Linked DNA regions of Homo sapiens. The protein of the gene in region 3 interacts with the protein of the main gene of each other region in a pairwise test. Each region holds a gene or a part of one and is shown on either strand. Other genes may lie near its edges. The genes, in order: HEMK1, FAM222B, AKAP8L and TRIB3.

The links.
Region 1: the proteins of AKAP8L (region 3) and HEMK1 interact in binary tests that used the Homo sapiens proteins (3 or more experiments, as listed by UniProt).
Region 2: the proteins of AKAP8L (region 3) and FAM222B interact in binary tests that used the Homo sapiens proteins (3 or more experiments, as listed by UniProt).
Region 4: the proteins of AKAP8L (region 3) and TRIB3 interact in binary tests that used the Homo sapiens proteins (3 or more experiments, as listed by UniProt).

What each region holds. Positions count from the first base shown.
Region 1 is NC_000003.12:50,593,502-50,596,681, forward strand, and holds the end of HEMK1 (MTRF1L release factor glutamine methyltransferase), read left to right. Parts: 3' UTR 1-2,665; downstream 2,666-3,180. UniProt on the Homo sapiens protein: N5-glutamine methyltransferase responsible for the methylation of the glutamine residue in the universally conserved GGQ motif of the mitochondrial translation release factors MTRF1, MTRF1L, MRPL58/ICT1 and MTRFR.
Region 2 is NC_000017.11:28,762,773-28,769,807, reverse strand, and holds part of FAM222B (protein FAM222B), read left to right. Parts: intron 1-3,100; 5' UTR 3,101-3,140; coding exon 3,141-3,222; intron 3,223-7,035.
Region 3 is NC_000019.10:15,415,954-15,423,838, reverse strand, and holds the start of AKAP8L (A-kinase anchor protein 8-like), read left to right. Parts: upstream 1-4,850; 5' UTR 4,851-4,915; coding exon 4,916-4,928; intron 4,929-7,885. Other genes in the region: protein Wiz, read left to right, coding at 604-763. UniProt on the Homo sapiens protein: Could play a role in constitutive transport element (CTE)-mediated gene expression by association with DHX9. Increases CTE-dependent nuclear unspliced mRNA export.
Region 4 is NC_000020.11:383,735-390,769, forward strand, and holds part of TRIB3 (tribbles homolog 3), read left to right. Parts: intron 1-4,276; coding exon 4,277-4,567; intron 4,568-7,035. UniProt on the Homo sapiens protein: Inactive protein kinase which acts as a regulator of the integrated stress response (ISR), a process for adaptation to various stress. Inhibits the transcriptional activity of DDIT3/CHOP and is involved in DDIT3/CHOP-dependent cell death during ER stress.

The DNA.
Region 1 (3,180 bases), on a different chromosome or scaffold from region 3:
ACTTTCCTGCTTATCTAGTCTCAGATGTTACAGTTTTTCTTGTTATGTATTATACAGAGAGATGGCCTAACTGGTTCTTGCTGCTGCATGGGCAAGCCATTAATTTACAGGGGTTTATCTTATAACTGGACACCTTTTTGTTTTCTCTTACAAGATGTGCTTGTTGTTGCTTCTCTTGGATTTTCTACATTGACATTTTACCACTGAAAATAATGACAATGACAAATTTGTCTTTTCCTTTCTTTCTTTTTTTTTTTTTTGAGACAAAGTGCCACTCTGTTGCCCAGACTGGAGTGCAGTGGCGCGATCTCCCAGGTTCAAGCGATTCTCTTGGCTCAGCCTCCCGAGTAGCTGGGATTACAGGCGTCCACCACCATGCCAGGCTAATTTTTTTTTTGTATTTTCAGTAGAGACGGGGTTTTGCCATGTTGGCCAGGCTGGTCTCGAACTCCTGACCTCAAGTGATCTGCCACCTCGGCCTCCCAAAATGCTGGGATTACAGGCCTGAGCCACCACACCCGGCCTGTCTTTTCCTTTTTAATACTTATGGCTCTTATTTATTTTCCTTGTTTAATAGCTTGGCTGAGACCTTCAATACAATATTGAAAAACTGTAACGACTAGAGCATTTGTATATTGTTTCTCACTTGGGGTGCCTCTGGTCCCTCCCTGTCAAGTGCACTTGCTATTGATTTTGGATAGATGGCCCTTTTCTACTTAAAAATGGTTCAGTCTAGTTCTGGCTGACTCTGATTTTTTGTTTATTTTAGAGGCTTTTTTTTTCATCTTTCATTCATGCAACAGACCTTCAGTGAGCTGATTGCCAGGACTACACTGTCATACTGTGGTACCAAAGAAAAATTGACACGGTCCCTACTCATAAGGAGTTCATGGCCTGGTGGAGGATACAGGCAGGCAAATAGATCCTTATCCTTAGGCCATGGGGCATGCATTCAGTCACCATCTGCTGGCACTGTGCCAGGCACAAGGAATGGGCACTATTCAGGCAGGCCCCCATCACAGTCTGGTGGGGTCCAAGCAGTTCACATCCCCTCTCACTCAAGTTCCCACAGAGTAGTTGCAATGGTGAGCTGAGGTTTTCTCTGCTGCAGAGGCCAGGTGGGTAAGTAACCAAAAGTGCCTGAGAGCTAATCCCCTGGAGCAGCCTGAAACCAAGGAAGACAGAGAGTTGGTAGACACATGCCCAGCTCCCTCACCCCTTGGGTGGGACAACCGTGGCTTGTGTTTTCTGCCAGCTCCCAACTGAAGACTGAGCCTCAGTTGCCTACAGAAGGAACCCACTCATAAACCCACCTACCTCCTTTGGCTTCCTTTCCTTCCCTGTCTCACCCCCTCTCCCATTTTATATCAATAAGTGTGAAGGCTGAGATTTTATCCGACTTTCTTTTTTTTTTTTTGAGACAGAGTCTCATTCTGTTGCCAGGCTGGAGTGCAGTGGCGTGATCTTGGCTTACTGCAACCTCTGCCTCCCAGGTTCAAACGATTCTCCTGCCTCAGGCTCCCGAGTACTGGGACTACAGGTGCGCACCACCACACCCAGCTATTTTGTATTTTTAGTAGAAACAGGGTTTCACCATGTTGGCCAGGATGGTCTCAATCTCTTGACCTCATGGTCTGCCCACCTCGGCCTCCCAAAGTGCTGGGATTACAGGAGTGAGCCACCGCGCCCGGCTTATCCGACTTTGAAGCAAACAAGTTAGTCTATCATAGTCTATCATATTCTCAAGGATCATGGCAGAAGGCACAGAACTCTGGGTTCAGAAACAGACAACAGATTATTGTTTACAGTAACGGCAGTAGACAGAGTAAAAGCATTTTCTTGCACCACTTCCCTGAACCGCAGTTCCTACAGAGTGATGTGATGATGGCCCGGTGATGCCTGCATATGCATTGGGTTGCACTACGGTGGAGAAACTGCATGCTGAATTTAGGGGACCCACGTCTTTTATAATAAGCTGCAAGCAAACCTGCCCAGGTGGGAGATGTTATCTTTAGTATACGGGACAATAAAATCTGCCTTTTGCTCTGGAGGGAGATACTACCTCTATCTTCTAAGGTTACTCACTATAATAATCACCCTTGTAAAGATTATTTAGAACAAGGGCAACCAGTGCCTCTACTGGCAAGTGTGCAGAAATAGGAGAGAACCATGGGGAATTGTCTCTCAATACCTTACTGGTGCTTCTTGGCATTACTTCCCAAATAATCTATTTGCATTTGGATGCTTGTCTCAGAGTGGTTTCTGCAGGAAAAAACCCAAGATAGAGAGACAACACTATATAGGCATCGATGTATTTCTGGGGTGACTCTCTTTCCTCCAGACCTCTCCTGCAAACAACGCAGGGGAGCCACGCAAAGGAAGAGGTTTCCACACCTGGGATTGATACTGCTGGGACTCCAGGGCAGGTGCTCTAAAGGACTCTTAGAATTTCATTTTTAATGTTTAATATTTGGTCCATCTAGAATTTATGGTGGAAGGTGTGAGGTAGACGTTGCACTTTTTTTTCCTTCCAAATTGCTCCAATATCACTTACTGGAAATTGTGCTTTGTCTGTTACCACTCTCTTCTAATCTGCCTGTGGCCTGTTCCTTAGAGTGTATCACAAACATACAAGTGATCAATTTCCAATAAATTGATTAAAGAATTCATGTGCATTCCCATTTTGTCAAACCACTGATTTGACACTCAGTGCTGATGCAGTGTGAGACAAACCCAAACACCCACTGTCATGATAGCACCGTTCAGGTTCTAGGGCAATGCATGGAGGTTGTGCTTTTGCTAACTGCAGAGCAAACACTACTTCAGCCTTCACAGAGAATTTAACTGTGAATAGTGAAGATTTCTTTTCTTCTCTCTGTTTCTTTTTGAGAAGAGTTTTGCTCTGTCACCCAGGCTGGAGTGTAGTGGCACAATCATGGCTCACTGCAGCCTCGAAATCCTGGGCTTAAGTGATCCTTTGGCCTCAGCCTCCCAAGTAGCTGAACTACAGACATGCACTGCCATGTGTGGCTAATTTTTAAAATATTTTTTGTAGAGAAAGGGTCTCACTATGTTGCCCAGATTGGTCTCAAACTCATGGACTCAAGCGATCCTCCCACTTTGGCCTCCCAAAGTGCTGGGATTACAAGTGTGAGCCACCACACTCTGCTAAGATTTCTT
Region 2 (7,035 bases), on a different chromosome or scaffold from region 3:
TTGAAGGAACTGCAGGGAAACCATGGTGAGACCATGGTGGCTGGAAGTAAGTCAGCAAGAGAGGGCAGGGTAGGTCAGAAGGTGAGGTCAGAGAACCAGTAGTAATAGATCATGGAGGGCCTTGGGGTCCATGTTAGGATTTTGTATTTTATTCTTAGATGGAAAGTCATTAGAGATATTTAAGCTGCTCTGACTTTCAGTTAACAGAATTGGCCGGGCGCGGTGGCTCACGTCTGTAATCCCAGCACTTTGGGAGGCCAAGGCGGGCGGAACACGAGGTCAAGAGATCGAGACCATCCTGGCCAACATGGGGTGAAACCCCGTTTGGGCCAGGCACGGTGGCTTACGCCTGTAATCCCAGCACTTTGGGAGGCCGAGGCGGGCGGATCATGAGGTCAGGAGATTGAGACCATCCTGGCTAACACTGTGAAACCCCATCTCTACTAAAAATACAAAAAAAAATTATCCGGGCATGGTGGCAGGCGCCTGTAGTCCCAGCTACTCGGGAGGCTGAGGCAGGAGAATGGCGTGAACCCGGGAGCGGAGGTTGCAGTGAACCGAGATCGCACCACTGCACTCCAGGCTGGGGAACAGAGCAAGACTCCATCTCAAAAAAAAAAAAAAAAAAAAAAAGAACTAACATTGCTGAATAGAGAATAGATTGGGTGATAAAGGGTAAGCGTGGAACAGACCATTTAGAAGGCTAATAGTAATCCCATCTAGAGATGATGAGATGACAGGTGAAGTTTGTTACCTGTTTCCAAGGCTTGAGAGACTCAATTAAGAAAACATCACTAAAGCCCCTCATACAGCCCATTTCACAGTTTTAGCTCCCAGTACTTGTTAATTCTCTTCCTTTCCTTGGAGTTTGCCTTCAGCTGTGTTAGGGTCTTAAGGGAGAAGTTATTATGTAAAGATCAGCATCCAGACCCCAACAGAAGTCTCTCTTTTTTTTTTTTTTTTTTTTTTTTGAGACAGAGTTTTACTCTTGTGGCCCGGGCTGGAGTGCAGTGGCGCAGCCTCTGCTCACTGCAACCTCTGCCTTCTGGGTTCAAGCAGTTCTCCTGCCTCAGCCTCCTGAGTAGCTGGGACTACAGGCATGCGCCACCATGCCCAGCTAATTTTGTATTTTTAGTAGAGACAGGGTTTCACCACGTTGGCCACGCTGTTCTCGAACTCCTGACCTCAGGTAATCTGCCCGCCTCGGCCTCCCAAAGTGCTGGGATTACAGGTGTGAGCCACCGTGCCCGGCCAAGACTTTTTTTTTTTCTTGAGGCACTGAAGTTGGCTCACTGTGTTCATTCTGTTTTCCCACCCACCAGAGATCTTAAAAAGACTGACGCTGTGCCAGAACTCTTGGACAGCTCTGTTCTCATTAAGGCATTCAATCTTCAGTTCTTTCTGCAGTTGCTATCTTAGACACAGTTTGAGCAGCCTCTTTTACAAAGTGTCTTTTCAGCTACCTGGTCTTGGAAGCAGGAGCCCTCTGATACTCATCATGACAAGGTAGTTTAATATACCTGAGAGAGCCCTCTCAAGAAAATAAGGAGATTTTTGTCGTCTTTAACTTTTGAGCTTTTCCCCCACTCCTTTTTTGCTGTGATCTAAAGCCATAATTTGCCACCTTGGTTTCTGAAATATGGGAAAAGAAGTTCGTGTACTTATTTAGGAAAATCGTATTTCTGTTACCTAAGGAGCTTGCATTGTTGACAGGGCTTCTTTCGCTACAGAAGGCCCCATCAATGTCTGCTTGCTTGGGCTGTGTATGTCTGGTTGGTAAACATCACTAATGAAACTCGTGCGGTCTTGACATGTCAGGATTGCCTGCACGAAGAGAGCTGCTGGCAGCCTTTCTCCTTGCTTTAGTCTGGGAGCAATGCATTTCTTTTGAGGGGGTGGGAGAGGTAGTTCAGGAGGTCTAATTGCATGTCAGGAAGGGTGAAGCCCCAGAAATTTGCAAACAGAATTTGCTTTAACAGTGGTTAATTGTGCCTCCTAGGATGCTTTCCTCCTTCCATTTAAAAGTGAGTTCGGCCGGGTGCGGTGGCTCATGACTGTAATCACAGCACTTTGGGAAGCTGAGGCGGGCGGACCACCTGAGGTCAGGAGTTTGAGACCAGCCTGACCAACATGGTGAAACCCCATCTCTACTAAAAGTACAAAAATTGGCTGGGCATGGCGGCATGCGCCTGTAATCCCAGCTGCTAGAGAGGCTGAGGGACGAGAATCGCTTGAACTCAGGAGTCAAGGGTTGCAGTGAGCCAAAATTGTACCACTGCACTCCAGCCTAGGTGACAGCAGAACTCTGTCTTAAATAAATAAATAAATAAGTAAATAAATGTAAGTTCATGGCCGGGTGCAGTGGCTCACACCTGTAATCCCGGCACTTTGGGAGGCCGAGGTGGGCGGATCAACTGAGGTCAGGAGTTCGAGACCAGCCTGGCCAACATGGTGAAACCCCGTCTCTACTAAAAATACAAAGAAATTAGCCAGGCGTGGTGGCGGGTGCCTTTAATCCCAGCTACTCGGGAGGCTGAAGCAGGAGAATCGCTTGAACCTGGGAGGCAGAGGTTGCAGTGAGCCAAGATCGCACCATGGCACTCCAGCCTGGGCAACAAGAGTGAAACTCCGTCTCAAAAAAAATAAAATAAAAGTGGGTTCATATTACTGGCTCACAAGTCAGACATTGGGTACCTTTGCAATCATATAATGTGCTGCTTCTGAAAATGTCTGGCTGGTCTCCAACCAGGCCTATAAATGGGCTGGCTGAGCCAGGCCCTATGAGGGCCCACTCTCCTCAGGAATACTGAGACATTATAAATGCACCTGTACTTTCCAGTTGTATGAATAGGTGCTTTCCAGTTTTATTTCTCCCATCCATACATCTGTGGTAACTGAAAAATCATTTTAACCATAGTGATATTTGACAGCAAATTGTCGTCACAGATAAAGATGTAAGTATACTTTCAACCAACACACTGCTAATTAAATTGCTTTATGTGTCTAAACTTGGGCCTCACGCCAGTCATATCCAGTGTTCCTACTCTCTTCTTCGAATGAGTTGCCTTGTGTTTCATGACCTTGTTTTTGTTCATTACAGTGTGAGCCACTGCCCCATGTTGTGTTGATGCCAATCTGCCATGCTAGCCTGTCTACCAGGGCCAGGTGACCTGTCCTTTCAGCTTCTTTCTCACACGCAGATGAACACTGGACTTCAGAAATGTAAGTAATCTGGATCCTATGGAGCATGTGTGATTCTTTGTTTTTGTCTCTACATTTGGGCCGTCCTTGAAGCACATCTGGGGTACACTGACCTTGAATTTTGACACCTTTCTTTTTTTTTTTTTTTTAAGACGAAGTCTTGCTCTTGTCACCCAGGCTGGAGTGCAATGACGCGATCTTGATTGGCTCACTGCAACCTCTCCCTCCCGGGTTAAGCAATTCTCTTGCTTCAGCCTCCCGAGTAGCTGGGATTACAGGTGCCCACCACCATGCCTGGCTAATTTTCTATTTTTAGTAGAGATAGGGTTTCACCATGTTGGCCAGGCTGGTCTCAAACTCCTGATCTCAGGTGATGCCCCTAACTTGGCCTCCCAAAGTGCTGGGATTACAGGTGTGAGCCACTGTGTCCAGCCATTAGGGGTCTGCTTAAATTCTGTAATTCCCCATTGTATCTCAATTTTAATTGTTGCTGATAGCTTTCTGTTGAACAACAAAACTATAAAGAGCTTCAGGGGAAATATATATATATATATCACCCTTAAAAAAGGTGTTTCAGTTTGAACCTTCATAGGGAATTGAATGAAAACTCACAGTCCAGATTACTTACTATATCTCTGAAATAAACTATGCTGTTCTCTTGTTTTGAACTCTCTTAGTAGTCTACCATGGAAACAGACAGTTCCCTTTGGCTTTGCTACCTGCCTTCTGAGTCAGTGTGACTTTAGTTCACAGGAAGTCAGGGAGCTTTTGCCCTCAGAAGAGATGGAGAGCTAGCTTTCTCAGTCTCTCTGGGCATTTTCCTGCTAATACACTTCCCAGAAGATTGAGCCTTTGAAAACTGTTAGATTCTTGTCTTAACTTTCTGGAATTGGGGTTTTATACTTCATATTTTCCCGGACTCCTTCCTACCTTCTCTCCCTGTAATACATGATCTGCAAGGAAAATATTCTATTCTTGGCACATTACCATGTATAGTATCTTCAGGTGTAAAAACAGCCCTAAATTTGGAATAGACCTTCCATTCAGAGCACAAAGGGGAAATCATTGAGGTGGCTAGGCTTCCCTTTGATAGGAAAGGTGCTTCAGCACCTTAACTGAACCCCTTATGACAGGGGTTAACAAACTTTCTGTAAAGCCCAGATAGCCAATAATTTAAGCTTTGTGGGCCATGTGGTCTCTGTTGCATCTACTCAACTCTGGCATTGTAGGGCAACGGCAGCCACAGACAATAAACAAATGAGGGTGTCTGTGTTCCAGTGAAACTTTTTTACAAAAAAACAGCAACTGGACCAGGCACGCAGGCTGTCGTTTGCCAGCCCCTGCCATGTGAGAACATCATCAGAAGTTAAAAATGGTCCAGCCTTTAGACTTCATTTCTTTGAGAGAGCGTAAGACTCAGAGCCTGGCTAGTTCTGGAATTTGGCCAGTGAATCCAGCTCTATGTAATAACAGCTGAAGGTGGTAGTCCTCCTTCTACAGTTGCCTGACACAATAAGGCAAGCTCTGCTATAGCTTTCTCAACCCATCCTTTATCTTAATAAGTGATGATTGGGTGATGAAGGTGTTATGTTATACTCTCTGGTCATCCAAATCAGCATCCTAACTGCATCGTGCCTATTTCTGGGCTTCTGGGGACACAACTGGAGAGGGAACGTACTTAGAGGCATGCAGTAAGATGACAAAGAGAAGCTTCCTTTGTTCTGGGTTCCTTAACACACTCTGACAGCTTTACCCAAAGATGTGATATCAAGGGAAAAGCCATTTGGAGGACGGGCAAATTGGCAGCTTTATCTTGGTGTTCACTTTTATTATTTTTATTTTTTTTTTAATTATTTTTTTTAGATAGAGTTTTGCTCTTGTTGCTAGGCTGGAGTGCAATGGCGTGATCTCGGCTCAACGCAACCTCCGCCTTCTGGGTTCAAGCGATTCTCTACCTCAGCCTCTTGAGTAGCTGAGATTACAGGCATGCACCACCACGCCCAGCTAATTTTGTATTTTCAGTAGAGACAGGGTTTCTTCATGTTGGTCAGGCTGGTCTCGAACTCCCGACTTCAGGTGATCCGCCTGCCTCGGCCTCTCAAAGTGCTGGGATTACAGGTGTGAGCCACCACACCCAGCCCACTTTATTTTATTTTATTATTTTGAGGAGGACTTTTGCTCTTGTCACCCAGGCTGGAGTGCAGTGGCACGATCTCGGCTCACTGCAACCTCCGCCTCCCAAGTTCAAGTGATTCTCCCGCCTCAGTCTCCTGAGTAGTGGGATTACAGGCATGAGCCACCATGCCCGGCCCTTTTTTTTTTTTTTTTTTTTTTTGAGATGGAGTCTCCCTCTGTCACCCAGACTGGAGTGCAGTGGCGCAATCTCGGTTCACTGCAACCTCCATCTCCCGGGTTTAAGCAGTGCTCCTGCCTTAGTCTCTCGAGTAGCTCAGATTACAGGCATGCGCCACTGGAAATTTTTTCTTTCTTAATCCTAAACCTCTGCTCTGTATTTCCCCTTCTCAGGATCACAATATAGTAGTGGCTCTGTAAATATTTACTGTTTGAATAGCTGATAAAAGGTCCTTGGTCCTTAAACCATCTTCAGATAACAACTTTGATTTCCTTCCATGGCAGAACACTGGGGCTCTGGGGACAAATGCCAAAATTACCTTCTTTTACTGCTTCTTTATGTGCATATCTGCCCCCTAGTGGAGGGGTCTGGAAATGGCAGATTGACCCAATGACTGGATAAAGTCATAGAAATAATAGCTAACATTTGTCAAGTTGCTACCATGTGCCAGGCACTATATTGAATATTTTCACATATGTTGTCACCCATTCCTCAAAAATTCCATATGGAAGACTCTCTTGCCTTTGTCAGAAGGATAAGGTATAGAGAGAGGGTTTGTCACTTGCCAGTGCCACATGACAGTCCTGTGACTGGCCCATACTCAGCTCAGACTCTGAAATCTGTGTTTGAACACATTGCCTGTGCCTCTCTGCCTACAGATAGAGGTTCCTGTTGCCTATGCCACCTGTGCCCTCTGACCTTCAAAACAGAAGGATGAACAGAGAGGTCTCCATTGGGAGGACTGAATTTCAGGCAGAAAATTGCCTCCAGTCCATCCTGGAATAGACAGCAGTGCTTTCTGTTACATTTAACTCTCAGGCTGAAGGCCAGGTTGTCCTGCAGTTGGGGCTTCCTTAGTCAGTTTTCTTTGTGTTGTCTGTGGTCAGACTCAGCCACATCTGCTATCCTTGAATGGTAACTATTGACCATCATTGTTTCATTTTCAATGAAAATGCTCATTTAGTGAAAATGTTCATTGACTCTCGATCTTAGTAATTCTGTGAAGTAGGAGAGCAGAATTCATCCCTGTTGATAATTGAGGAATGACAGGCTCTCAGTATGGGCAAATGATGAAGCTAGTACTTGAATACAGGTTTCTCTAACCCTTTACAAACTACAGATTTCCTATTCCCTACATTGTCTATGTCTCTATTAATGACACTATTGGTATAAGCTATTTAAGTAAGTCGCTTACAAAGCTGTGGTATCTGTGTTGGCTGTGTAGTTACAGAAATACATTACAGAAGAAAATAAGTAGTCAGGGTGCCTGTGTGGGGGCTGTGATAAGTGTTGAGAAAACTTTTTTTTTTTTTTTTGAGACGGAGTCTTACTCTGTCACCCAGGTTGGAGTGCAGTGGTGCGATCTTGGCTCACTGCAACCCTGCCTCCCGGGTTTAAGCAATTCTTTGCCTCAGCCTCCCGAGTAGCTGGGATTACAGGCACCTGCCACCATGCCCGGCTAATTTTTTGTATTTTTTTAG
Region 3 (7,885 bases):
GCCTGGCACATGGTAAGTAAGCACTCAACTAGTGTCTGGCTCAAGAAAAAAGTAGATCTTAGTTAATTCTTACCAAAGTCCACAAGTACATTGAAGAGCAGCGAACTGGGACTCTGAGACGTGAGGTGACTTGCCTGAGGCCATACAGGCCAAGTCAGAAGTCAGAGTCAAAGCCACGTCTTGAGCCATGGAGCTTGGGCTCCAGGCCTCTGTGCTGTGAGGCCTTTTTAGGTGCCAGGAAGACAGGAGGAGGTGGGGGGCTTGGTGCGTTGGGTAGGATTTGCTTCTCTGTGCCCTCTACTGTCTCAGATTCTATGTATCTGCCAGATGGCAGGGGTACCTGGAAGCCAGTAGCCCTTACCTGGCACCAGTGACTTCTGAGCACAGAGGCAGGGGTCTCTGTGAGACCCTGCCATGACCCCATGGTGAGTGGAGGTGGCTGTCCATGGGAAACGCCTGACTTCTGGGTCCCTCTTCCCCCGCCTCCTGGGCTGGCTCTGTCCACACTGAGTAGCAGCAGGTGTGCCCAGGGATGCTGGCAAGGCTATGCTTCCGCCTCTCCTCACAGCACTGGCCACTCCCTCTCTCTGTTCCCCCATGCAGGTTCTGTGAGGTGGAATTCCAGGGCCCCCTCTCCATCCAGGAAGAGTGGGTGCGGCACTTACAGCGGCACATCCTGGAGATGAACTTCTCCAAAGCGGACCCCCCACCTGAGGAGTCCCAGGCCCCGCAGGCACAGACAGCGGCGGCAGAGGCTCCCTAACACAAAAGCATTCCAGATCCCCTCTCGTGCCACCTCTGTCTCCTCTTCTTCCTCCTCTGTGTCCTTGTCCCTCTTCCTCTTTCTTTCCGTTTCCAAAGGAGCAAGCCAAAACCTCAAACCGGCGCCCCTTGGGGGCCGGGCACACTACAGCCAGGGCGCCGGGAGCCAGCTAGCTGCCCTTCCCCCAGCCCGAGGACTCTGGGGCCACAGGGTGTCTTCCTTCAGCCCATGCCCACCTGGTCCAGCAGGGGCAGCAGCCAGGTCTCTGATGGCAGCCGGTCTGGTCACAGGGGAGGACAGCACTCCCCCGTCTAGCAGCCAGGCAGGGCGATGTCTGCCATCCGTGGCCATTTGCAAAGACCCCAAAGACCCCTGTTCTGGTTCCCTCTCTCCCCCATGAATATCCTCTCACACACATGTACATGCGAACACACACAACACGCACCTCGTGAGACCCGGGACCTGCCCCGGACCCCCAGTTCCTGGGTTGAACGACCACATCATGCCACGGTGCTTGCTCAGGGGAAGCCACGCTCCCTCTGTGGGGCCTGCTGGGGCCTGGGAGCCCCCCACTGAGCCCACAATGCCACGGAAATCCTTGTTGGCTGCCCCCGAGAGGGGCCTTCCCAGCTGGGAAGAGCTCAGAGCTGACAGCTGCCTCCTGCCATGTCAAGGCCCCCCAAAGAGCCTCAGGGGCTCTGGGGCCCTGGAGGGTGGGGTTGGGGGGTGGGACTCTCCTCCCCCACTCCTGCTCCCTCTCCCTTTTCACTGTTGCTTTCTATGTATAGCTCCCTAGACCTTTCACTTTTTTAAAAACGCGTTTTGTGTAGAGAATAAGGAACGTGGATCTTTTTATTTTGCAATCCTGGGCCAGCTAGAAGCCAGGAGCTGATTGACCTTTTAACTTTTTTCAGTGGCCACATTTTGGTTATCGATGTACCTAGAAGTATGTAAATTAGATTAAATTTCTCTTCTGGAAACACCCTGGGGCAGGCGGCCAGCGTGTGTTTTTCTGTCAAGTGGACAGGCTGGCATTGGCTGGCAGCCGGGGCTGGGATCGGGGCCTCCTCTGTCCAGAGCGCCATGGAGGCCCTGGGTTTTCCAGTTGGCCGCCAAGCCGACCAGACGCAGCTGGGGATGAGCCCAAGTTCCCAGCTGTTGGCTCTTTAGGCCATGGCTGGGAGGGGGTCTCTGGCTGGCTGGCAAAGCGGCTCCAGTGAGCAGATGAACCAGGGTTCTGGGCAGCCTGTCTGGGAAGGGAGCCAGGATCAAGAAGCAGTTGAGGCTAGAGGAGCTTATCAAAGGCAGGAGCTACCAGCGAGGGTGTCAGGGACCCGTTGGGAGCATTTGGGTGGGGGCCAGTGGGGTTGTAGAGAGCTGGAACTCACCTGCTTTTAATACATGTGACTTCTAGTGAGACACATGCACCCCTGACCCAAGGAACATGCGGGGAAAAGAGGAGCCACTGGCTCCTTTGCGATGTTATTTATTTTCTCGCTCTGCAAATGTTTATTGAACATTTCTGAGATTTTAAGAGATTTTGTTGGCTGCTCCTTCTTGTTTATTGCATGTGGTTTTTCAGCTCATCGTTTTTACTAAACGGTCAAGTGCTGGAGAGTGGGAACGACCTCATGGCGTGTGGACAGAAGGGGCCACCTCTACCCCCAGCCCTGCTTTCTGGGCCCTCCCACCATACCCCTTCCTGGGAAGGAGGGATTAACAGGCTGCAATAACGCCCACAAGGGTGGTCTTGGCCCACACGTCTGCTCCTGTGGGGTCAGGACGCACATCTCGCCTGGTGGCAGAAGGCCGCAACCACTTCTCTCCATCCTGTGCTGTGGGTGGGTGGATGTATCCAGGACTTAGGAAGCAGGGAGAGCATCTTGTGAGCTGACTCAAAGGTGTTTCTTCCTCTTTCAACTTTTCATAAGTCAGTTTTTATTTTTTTATTTTATTTTTTGAGACAGGGTCTCATTTTGTTGCCCAAGCTGGAGTGCAGTGTAGGGACCTCGGCTCGCTGCAGTCTCTGCCTCCTGGGTTCAAGTGATTCTCCTGCCTCAGCCATCCAGGTAGCTGGGATCACAGGCATGCACCACCACCCCTGGCTTATATCTGTAATTTTTGTAGAGACGGGGGTTTCACCATGTTGCCCGGGCTGGTCTTGAACTCCTGAGCTCAAGTGATCAGCCTCCCAAAGTGCTGGGATTACAGGCGTGAGCCACTATGCCCGGCCCGTAAGTCAGTTTTTGAAATATAAAAGTGGTATAGGCTAGATGTGACAAAAAACAGTCAAATGATACAAGAGCTTATAAAGTCATATGGCAAGTTCCTCCCCACCAATCATGCAGTGAAGTGAGGGTCATGTGTGTCCTTGGAAGAGTCACCTCCAGTTCTTGCAGGGGGATGTTTTCCTAAAACTTTCTGAGCATTGCTCTTCTCTGCTCAAGCCACTTCAATACACCTCAGGCAGCAAAGTCTCAGCTTTTGAGCCGTGGTCTCTGAGGGTGTTGGATGTGAACGAAATCAAATCGGTACAATGATGACTGTGGCAAGTGCGATGAAGGAACGAACCTGCAGGGCGCAGAAGACGTGTCCTGGGGCCCTGCCTTGGTTTGGAAGACAGGCAGGCATCCCTGAGGCTGATGGGGAGATGAACCCCGAAGCCAGAGTGCTTATCCGTCAGATCTCTGCTTCATGTTTGGAGTTTGCTCACTTAACACATCAGAAGTGGCTTTGTTCCGTATGGCAGCAAGTTCTGCAGAAGCCTCATTTGGGTGGGGGGAGTTTTATTAAAACAGTTTATCATGGAGAATTCCAACTATACAAAAGTAGAGCAAACAGTAAAATGGACTCTCATCTATCCATCACCAACCCATGACCAATGTCTTCAGCTGTCAGAGATTTATCTTATAGCTCCTTGCTTCCTCCTCCTCTCTCTACCTGTCTGAATTGTGTGAAGCACATCCTGGCCATAAGATCAGTTAACTTCTTAGTATTTCAGTATGTTTCTCTCAACGTTGTAAATGCCACTATTACACCTAAAGAAATCAACAATATCAAAAAGAAACAGCATACCTTAAAAAAAGTTTTAAAACACACGAAGCGTAGAAGTCGTAATTGCGCAGCTTAATGAGTTTTCACAAACACACGTGTTAAGTACTCTTCGGTGCAGCTCTGTCATCTCTAGAAATTATGAGTTGTCCCTGGCAGGGTTTCCATATGCCCAGGAAACAGACTGAGGACATGACTGGTGCCCGGCTGCACTATTGCAGGATCTCTCGAGCCCAGAGTGAATCAGGAGGGTTTTAGAAGCAAAGCTCCCATTTTAACACGTAACTGTCAAGGACCTTGAGCAAATCATGAGTTCCAAGCTTCAGTTTTAAGTGAGGATTAAAAGCTTTTTGCAGGTTTGAAGGAGCATTCGAATGACACACAATACAAACGGAATTATTACACATATAAGCATATGCCATATAAATATATTATCGTTTTGTTACGATTAATCACATTTATTCAGTGCACTGGCACCAGAATGATTTCTTTACACACACTTTGTCACGTAATGTTGAAACGTGTGTCCAGCATCTTGTTTGGTGCTGTTTTAATTTTCTCTTCTCAACATGGCTTTGCTATGCTTGTTTTGGAGCCGAAGGCCAGAGAATTTGAGAGACTTAGCTAGGTCCCCTACCCAGCACCTCGGTGGCGGAGTTGGCATCCCAGCCCTGCCCTGAGCCGTAGACCCGACTCCCTCTGGCGGGTCTCCAGGGTACGGGCGCTCCTCCAGCCCGACCATGCTTGGGCCTTGGGCCTTTCCGTAGTGCACAGCTCCGCCCCCTCAAATTCTATAGGACTCCGCCTCTCTGCCGGCTTCTGTAGGCCAATCACTGAGGCCTTAGAATAACAGAAGGCGGGGACAAGGCGGGGCTCTCACGAGATTGCCAGCAGCTTCCAGCCACTGATATGAGGAGGCATAGAGATAGACAGCGGTTCCTTCCAATAGACGTGAAGCCGAGGCCGGTATGAGCCAATGCGGTCGGGAGGCGGGGCTCGGGTGTGTGTGGAGGGGACCCTGTGGTTAGCAGCAGCTATCGCAGCGTCGGATGTTCAGAGCAGCAGAAGCCGGCGTCGTCGGATGTTGTGTTGCCCGCCACCATGAGCTACACAGGTGGGCCTGGCAGGGTGGGGTCGGGCTCTGCGTGGGGGATGGGACAGGGACGTGCGGATGCCGCACCAGGCTTGCCCGCACCTCCCCTGGGGCCCCGTCACTGCCTTCCCTGCGGTCACAAAATGGCGCCGCTGGCCCGTCGCCTCAGGGTCGCTGCCCTCACGCCTCGTTGCCTCAGCTCTCTGTGTCTGCAGCCGGCGTCCCGGCTCCCGGCCGCCTGATGTCTTGGCTTCTGTCGCCTGTGTCCGTGGGTCCGGGCCTCAGCGCACGAGGTCTCCGCCCCCACCACCTCCGTCCCTGGCCTGCGCTCCTGGACCTCGACGCCTTAGGTTTCCCTTTCTCAGGCCTTGGTCCTTGCGAGCAGGCAGCAGGCTCGGCTGCCGTCGCCATTGTCGCGTCCTCCCCCGCGCAGTTTCTCTGCAAAAACGCCGCAGCTCTACACCCCCATCCCGATCCCACCCACCACCCCCTTTTGTCTATTTCAGAACTGGGAAAGGCGCCAGGCCCTAGGGGGATAAGTAAATATTGGAAGGGTTTGGGCTGAGCGGGGAGCCTTGGGCCCCTAGGGGCTGAACTGCAAGGAATGACAAGGTTCCATGTTAATTCCCTCTGCGTCTGTCAAATGAACCGTGTCCGGTACAGACTGGGTATTGGGAATACAGACAAGAATTCCTCAAGCAGCTTAGAGGCGAGGATCTTAATAGGCAAATAAGCGAGTGTAGGATATATTTTAGGGTGGTCAGTACCGTGCGGGGGTCGCTCCACTACGTGGAGTGGTTGGAGCCTTCTGTAAAGAGGTGACATTTGAGCAGAGACCTAAATGGAGGGAGCGAATAAAGATATCTGGCCCAGGGAGCTTTTGCTGTAAAAGGCTTACGGGCAGGAACTGCCTGGCTTGTTAGAAGATCAGCCAGGGAGGCCAGTGGGAGGCCAATGGGATTTGAAAGGGAGAGTGGGTGACAGATCCGAGAGCCCCTCTCCGCCCCCCGCAATATGCTTGGGCGACTGTAAATCATCACTGGGTGAATTGCCAAGGCCTCCTGGGTTTGCCTTGGCAGTGACTGATGAGGCTTCTCGGCCAGGAGACTTACACTAGGCCTCCCTGTTTGGTGAGGGTATTATAGGCTTGAGCGTGTGTGGTTGCCAGGTAACCTGCATTCTACTTGGAATTTTGAGAACTGAGAATGCAACGTGAGTCTGTGGGGCTCCTTTGTAGACCACTTTATGTTGGCATAGGCAAGAAGGTAGTGCCAGTCCCCTCTACCCTGGCTGCCAGGTCAGGAGCTTTCCAAGAACCCCAGTTTTTCTAGCAACCATCCCCCAGCCCAGTGGGTTCTCATCCAGGGGTGATTCTGCCCCAGATGACATCTGGCAATGTCTGGAGACATTTTTGGTTGTCACATATGGGAGTGGGAGTGCTGCTGGTATCTAGTGGATGGAGGTTTGGGATGCTGCCCTGCTACGGTATACACAATGACACCTACCGCAAAGAAGTATCTGGCGTCAAACATCAGTAGTGCCCAAGTTGGGCAGCTCTGCCAGAGCCTTTCTGTAGCTTTCCTAGTTCAGGAGGAAAGACTATGGGGTTGTTACTGACATCCCTGGGATTGGAATATAATTCTCACCAAGTCTTACCAAGAACTGGAAGACAGTTTCATGGTTTTTAAAAACAGGACTCTTGAAGAAACCAGAAGATGAATGGTTGGGTGCTGTGGGGTAGCTGAGTAATGGAGCTCTTTTTTTTAATAGATGAGGAAACTGAGATACAAGGTCACTAATGACCAAACCTGAATTCCAGCTCTAGGTCTTGTAGGCTGTAGTTCTGGGTTTGGGTGGGCACTGAGATAGCCAAGCTAAAAAAGTAATGATTAGTTTTTCCTTTATCTTGATAAACTGAAAACCACAGTAATTTACAATGTGAGTCTTCCCCTTATTTAAGAAGTAGGGCACTAAAGTCAAAGGCATTTTAATTCACATTTCAGACAACTAATAGCTTTAAGGGTAAGTCCTAGAGGCCTCGAAGCAAATGTTAGCATTATTAAACATAAAAGGTGACTGATAAATCTTTTTATTAACTCGCCCTGCTTTTGAACCCTGTTACCTTATTTATACGTGGGAAAGGAAGCTGCATCTCTAGCACTGAGAGGGGAAGAGGAGAGCAGTGGTAAACAGCACAGAAATATCCAGAATCAGGCCCTCAAACAAAGGTCTGAAATGCTACTGTACTTGTCATAGAAACATTTATTGTCTCACACAGTTTCTTTATGTTTGGAATGGATAGGTGATTTCACTGGGTGGTTCTAGCTTGGAATATCATGAGGTTACATTTAGGATCTCTATGTGGACTAGAGTCATCTGAAAGCCTGACTGAGGCTGGAGGTCCCACCTCCAAGGTGACTTAAACTCCCATGCCTGGCAGGCTGATGCTGGCCAATAATTCTTGGCCCCATGGATCTCTCCCTAGGGCTGGCTGCTGGAGTATCCTCACAACATGGTGGCTGGTTTTCTCCAGACTGAATGATCCCAGAAAGAGCAAGGCGAAAATCCCAGAAGTCACACTCAGTCATTTTCATAAATCTTATTGGTTGCACTGGCTAGCTCTATTAGTTGGGAGGGATCTACATAACGTTAAGAGGCAGGAATGGAGACCATCTTTGAGGATGGTTGTCACCCTACTCTTGGCTCAGATAATAAAGATTGAAGGCAACCTAACCTAATTCCAGTTATCTTTTAATTTTTGGTACTCTGTGTTACTCCTTCAAATAAGACTCTTTTTTTTTTTTAGATCAGGCACGGTGGCTCACACTTGTAATCACAACACTTTGGGAGGCCGAGGCAGGAAGATTGCTTGAGGCCAGGAGTTTGAGATGAGCCTGGGCAACATAGCAAGACCCTTTCTCTATAAAAATTAAAAATAAAAAAGTTAGCTCTGCGAGGTTGAGGCTGCAGTGAGCCAT
Region 4 (7,035 bases), on a different chromosome or scaffold from region 3:
CAGCCTGTTTTTCATTTTGATATTGTCAAAATGCACTCCTCAGAGGTGGTACCTTTTATCCTCCCACTAGCACTGTCTTCATTGTTAGTGGCTGCACTGCCACTATTCCACAGTATAAACCCACTTTTCATGACACTGCCAAGACATAAGGGTCTGAAATACTTAACAGTTTTCTTCCACAGTCCCCAAAATACAGGCTTCTCCCCCAGCTCAGGACATGAAGCCATCATCCCTCCTCATTGCAGGAGCCAAAGGCTGGACCTCACCTCGATTCCACCCTCTCCTTCACCCCTCACATCCAATCCATCCAGTCCATCCAGTCTGCCACTGAGTCCTCTTGATCTTCCTCCTATGAGCCCTTAACTTCGCGTCTCCATCTAGCACCCCCTAGTCCAGGTCACCTTCTCCTGCCTGGACTCGTGCTTGTGTGGGCCTCCTAGCTAGTCTCACTGCCCCGTCTTGTACTTTCAAATCCACCCTAAAAGCATGATGTTCCCCTGCTGAAATCCTTCAGTGGCTCCCCACTGCCTTTGGATAATTCCAAATCCTATTGTGTGTTAATTAGGATTAGGCTCAGCTGTAATATAGAAACAGCCACTTAATAGCTAAAATGAAATAGACGTTTTTTTCTTCTTTTTCTCTTTTTTTGAGACAGAGTCTTGCTCTGTCCCCAGGCTGGAGTGCAGTGGCGAGATCTCAGCTCACTACAACCTCTGCCTCCCAGGCTCAAGTGATTCTCCTGCCTCAGCCTCCCGAGTAGCTGGGACTACAGGCATGCACCACCATGCCCACCTAATTTTTGTATGTTTAGTAGAGATGGGGTTTCACCATGTTGGCCAAGATGGTCTCGATCTCCTGACCTTGTGATCTGCCTGCCTCGGCCTCCCAAAGTGCTGGGATTACAGGCATGAGCCACTGCGCCCAGCCTTCAATAGATGTTTATTTCTCTCCTGTGTAAAAAACCTGGAGGTCTGGCCTGACAACTCCATGTGTCAGGGACCTAGGCTCCTCTCTTGCTCTACTGTATGTGGTACTTCTGAAGCCAAGGTAGATGCTGGAGCTCCAGCAGTTAGGTCCACATTCCAGCATACAGGAAAGGAGGAAATGAGGAAGTTGGGCCCTCCCTTTAAGAACACTGTCCTGGGCATTGTACACAACACTTCCACTTGTGTCCTACTAGCCATATGCTGATACAAGGATACAAGGGAGACAGGAAATGCAGTTTATTCTAGGTGTCCTTGTGCTCAGCTGAAAATCTCAGGTTCTAATCCTATGTAAGGAGGGGAGACCTGAAACTGGGGACCACTAACCACCTCTGCCATATGATGCTCGTAGAGCCCTTCACAATAGGGCCTCTACTAACCTCACCTTATTTTTATTTATTTATTTATTTTTGAGACGGAGTTTCACTCTTGTCGCCCAGGCCGGAGTGCAATGACACTATCTCAGCTCACCGCAACCTTTGCCTCCTGGGTTCAAGCAACTCTCCTGCCTCAGACTCCTGAGTAGCTGGGATTACAGGCGTGTGCCACCACGCCCGGCTAATTTTTGTAGTTTTAGTAGAGACGGGGTTTCACCATGTTGGTCAGGCTGGTCTCAAACTCCTGACCTCAGGTGACCTGCCTGCCTCGGCCTCCCAAAGTGCTGGGATTACAGGTGTGAGCCACCACGCCCGGCCTATTTTTTTTTTTTTTTTAACTTTTCACTTTTTTTTGCAGTCACGCTCATTCTCCACCGTGTTCTTGGGGAACATGCAGCATGTTCTTTTGCCTCTTCCCTCACCCCAGAACAGGGGTTACTGGACAGCGGCATCAACTTCACCTGGGAACTGGATAGAAATGCAGATTCAGACCTTCTGAATGAGCTACTTTGGGAGTAGGGCCCAGCAATGTATGTTGAAACAGGCCTCCAGATGATCTCAATGCTTGCTCAAGTTTGAGAACCACTGAACCGCAGTATGACTCTCCGTGTCACCTGGCTAACTCTGCCTCACTTTCAGGTCTCAGTGTAGACACCACCTCTTCTAGGAAGACCTCTCTTGACCCACCAGCCCAGGAGAGAGGCCTCTCTGGGTTCCTAGAGGCCCATGCTTCTCTGTATAGTAGGGCTGATCACACTGTATGTGATTTTTTTTTTTTTTTTTGAGAGAGTCTTTACTCTGTCACCAGGCTGGAGTGCAGTGGCACAAACATGGCTCACTGAAGCCTCAACCTCCCAGGCTCAAGCAATCTTCCCACCTCAGCCTCCCAAGTAGCTGGGACTACAGGCATCCACCACCACACCCAGCTAATTAAAAAAAAATTTTTTTTTGTAGAGACAGGGTCTCACTATGTTGCCCAAGCTGGTCTTGAACTTTTGGGTTCAAGCAGTCTTCCCACCATGGCCTTCCAAAGTGCTAGGATTACAGGTGTGGGCCACTGCACCTAGCCTTGGACGTGATTTTATTACTCATCTGCCCTCCAAATTGACTGGAAGATCCTGACGGCAAGACTGCTGTCTAACCTACTTCTCTTCCTAGCACCCAGTGTTAAGTGAATGAACAAGATCATATCTCTCATCTGTGAATGTACGAGAGCCATGGATTATGAGATTAGTTGATTTTCTTAACTATAATTTTTAGAAACAAGCTGTGTTTTTAAGCAGGTATTTATTTCCTTAAATGTACATTTCTGATTACAAAATACTTTTTTTTGAGACAGAGTCTTGCTCTGTCACCCAGGCTGGAGTGTAGTGGCACAATCTCGGCTCATTACAACCTCTGCCTCCTGGGTTCAAGCGATTCTCCTGCCTCAGCCTTCCCAGTAGCTGGGATTACAGGTATGCACCACCACGCCCGGCTAATTTTTTTTTTCTCCCGTGACGGAGTCTTGTTCTGTTGGCCAGGCTGAAGTGCAGTGGTGTGATCTCAGCTCACTGCAACCTCCACCTCCCGGGTTCAAGTGATTCTCCTGTCTCAGCCTCCCAAGTAGCTGGGATTACAGGCCCACGCCACCACGCCTGGCTAATTTTTCTATTTTTAGTAGAGATGGGGTTTCACCATGTTGGCCAGGCTGGTCTCAAACTCCTGACCTCATGATCCACCACCTTGGCCTCCCAAAGTGCTGCCGTGGGCTGCACTTTGGCATTGCCTTGGTCACGTGCTGCTACCTGGGATTACAGGCATAAGCCACTGCGCCTGGCCTAATTTTTGTATTTTTTAGTAGAGACAGGGTTTCACCATGTTGGCCAGGCTGGTCTTGAACTCCCAGCCTCATGATTCGCCCACCTTGGCCTCCCAAAGTGCTGGGATTACAGGCGTGAGCCACCACGCCTGGCCAGGAAATACATTTACATGGCTCAAATTCAAAACTATAAAAGTCGGCCAAACATGGTGACTCACATCTGTAATCCTAACACTTTGGGAGGCTGAGGCAGGAGGATTGCTTGAGCTCAGGTGAGACCAGCCTAGGCAATGTAGGGAGACCCCCATCTCTACAAAGAATAAAAAAAAATTAGTCAGGCATCATAGTGCACACCTGTAGTCCCAGCTACTTGGGAGGCTGAGGTGGAAGAATCACCTGAACCCTGAGGTCGAGGCTGCAAGTGAACTGTAATAGTAAGAGTCTCCTCCTAATCTTGTGCATCCTTTCAGAGAGAGAGATGATAGATATTCAAACAAATACATACATATATATAACATATTTATATATATTCTTTTTAACATAAAAGTATAGCCAGGTGTGGTGGTTCACTACTAGAGTCCCAGCTACTTAGGAAGCTGAGGTGGGAGGTTCACTTGAGGCCACGAGTTTGAGACCAGCGTGGGCAACATCTCTTGGGGAAAAAAAAAAAAAAACCCACCATAAAAGCATTCTATAACACGTAATTCTGTGTTTGTCTTTCTTCTCTTAATACATCTTGGAGATCAGTACGCATCAGTATATAGAGAGCTTCCTTGTCCTTTTTCAGGGCTGTGTAGTATTCTGCTGTATGGCTATACCATGATGTTTTCACTAGCTTTCTACTGCCTGACATTTGGGATATTTCCTGCTTTTGCTATTGGACACAAGGCTCTGATGAACAGCCTTTACTATATTTAATTTTTTTGTGAGAAGTTTAACTGGAAGATAAATTCCCAGAAGTGGGGCACCCAGTTAAGGATATGTGACTTTGTCATTTTAACACACACTGCCAGATCACCCCCTATAAATGTTGTGCCACGTATCCTCCCACCAGCAGGGGAAAGGAGGGGCCACCAAGCAGTCTCACTTTAGTGCTTTTCTCTCCTTTTTACCAGATGCGAGCCACCCCTCTGGCTGCTCCTGCGGGTTCCCTGTCCAGGAAGAAGCGGTTGGAGTTGGATGACAACTTAGATACCGAGCGTCCCGTCCAGAAACGAGCTCGAAGTGGGCCCCAGCCCAGACTGCCCCCCTGCCTGTTGCCCCTGAGCCCACCTACTGCTCCAGATCGTGCAACTGCTGTGGCCACTGCCTCCCGTCTTGGGCCCTATGTCCTCCTGGAGCCCGAGGAGGGCGGGCGGGCCTACCAGGCCCTGCACTGCCCTACAGGCACTGAGTATACCTGCAAGGTACGTGCCCATGGGCGGCTGTCCCCCAGCACCACAGGAGGCCTGGGAAGGAGGCCTCCAAAGGATTGCCAGGGTGCAGAGGGGTCCTTATGTTCATTCATTCTTGTGTTTGTTTAGTGGGGAAGCATCCAGGGAGCCCCTGCTGGACTGATACTAGAGAGGTAAACCAGAGGTCGTCCCAGTCCTGGGGGAGTTCACAGCTTAGGCCCTACAGTGTGATAAATGCTGCAGGGGTAGAACTTAGGGATCATGGGCGCAGAAAAGGCCGAGCAGAAGTTAGCCAGGTAGAAGTGGGAGATGGGAGTTGCAGGCAGGGGGAACAGCTGTTCAAAGGCCTAGAAAAGTGAGGGGATAGCACTTTAGAGAATGAAAAGGACTTCTCTGTGGCCAGAGTGGAGAGGATGTGCAGAAAGGGGCAGGAGATGAAGGTTGGCAGCAGCTGGTCATGAAGGTGTTAACAAGGGGCCTCCACTGGGCTGTGCGGAGCTACTGAAGATGTTTGCACAAGAGAAGGGTAGGGCATGGTAGACATCAAAACTCCTGGGACCTCGGAGGTGATCGAGCCTAACCTGGGGCCATTTTACAGATAGGAAGACTGAGATGAAGACAGGAGAAGGGCCATGCGTGAAGTCACATAGCACTGGGCCTGGCTCCTGGGGTAAACTAAGGGGTAGAAAAGTCTGAGGATTCCTGGCAGAAACCAGGAAATGGACAGGGTCAAGGCCCCTGAGGGTCAGCCCATGCAGGACACTGACAAGTGACAGTCCAAGAAGACAGAGATGAGAATAAAAAGTGTAACAATAGGTATTCACTGTGCACCAGGTACTATGATGATTGCTTAGTGTGCACAATCTCTTTTAATCTTGACACAACCAATGAGGTGGTTTCTATCATTGTGCCCCTTTTATAGATAGAGGACACTGAGACTCAGAAAGCCATGGTTACTTGCCACATGACAGAGCCAGGTGGTATCAGAGCTGGGATTGGGCCCAGGAGGCTGAGCCCAGAGAGTCCTGTGCCCGTGCTAGGATAAGCGTTTCACACAATCAGGGCAGGCTGCCCTGGCAGGCAAGCATAAGGAAGATAAGGGGGACCTGGAAACCCAAGGGAGAGTAGCGGGGGCCTGGGTCCCTTGGGAATGCACAGAGAAGCAGAAGGACTTAAGCCTCCTCCTGGGGCAGCAGCAGAGCTTTGCTCTGTTGACGGAGATGCAGTGAACAGCGGGGCAGATCCAGACAGGGTCCAGCCCCTAGCTTCACCTGGCCTCTTGTGCACAGATCTCCAGCGCCCTTACCAGGTGCCCTAAGGAGCCCAGAACTCTGGGTCCCCTTCCTGCAGCATCACAGGCTCTTTTCCACTCCCGCTGGGGAGGTGAGTCCATGATAAGAGGAATAACCCAAGCAGGCTCAGGAGAGAAGCGCCATGCGTTCACAGGGCCCTGATTCTCAAGAAACATTTGGGAAAATCCACTGGAACATACTCACCCCTATGCCAATGTGCACCATGGGTGCTGAATGGTCATTTCCACACTTCCTCAGCTTTTCTGGTCAGTGTGTAGAAAGATCAAAATCTTGTCTTTGTAAATGATCAACTTATTCATTAATTCAACACAACTTCATTGAGCACCCGTATTTGCCATGTACCATGCTGTGGTTAAAAAACAAAGTTCTGTTCTCATCAAGCTGACGTTCTAGTGGGAGATACAGACACTAAACAAGCGAATAAGTAAAATACGTGTCAGGTGGCCGGGCGCGGTGGCTCACACCTGTAATCCCAGCACTTTGGGAGGCCGAGGTAGGCAGATCACCTGAAGTCAGGAGTTCGAGACTATCCTGGCCAACATGGTGAAACCTTGTTTCTATTAAAAATACAAAAAATTAGCCGGGCATGGTGGCAGGGGCCTGTAATCCCAGCTACTCGAGAGGCTGAGGCAGGAGAATCTCTTGAACCTGGGAGGTGGAGGTTGCAGTGAGCCGAGATCACACCACTGCACTCCAGCCTGGGCAACAAGAGCAAAACTCCGTCTCAAAAAAACAAAAAACAAACAGGAAAACCCTTATTCCAGCATCTTTCTTGGTTCCTTTGCAATGCTTATCAGCATTTGTCAATATTTGGTTTCTGGGCATGTTTGCATGGCCTCCCAGTGGGCACCGGAGAGCAGAGCCCATGGCTGTCAGTCTAGCTGGACATGTGGCTGGCCCGTGCAGGCCCAGGGCCAGCATACTGAATGAATGAAAGCGTGGGTGGGCAAAGAGGACGGGAGCTGTGACGGTGATGAGCATCAGGTGCCTTCTGCATCATCCGCCCTTCCGGATTCCTCCTGCTTTGTGGGTTATTTTTCTGTTTGGGTGACCTGTTACTTTTCAGTTATCCGATGTTTGAGGCCATATAGCGTAGCAGTTAAGAGCACAGACAAAAGGCCGGGTGCAGTGGCTCACACCTGTAATCCCAGCCCTTTGGAAGGCTGA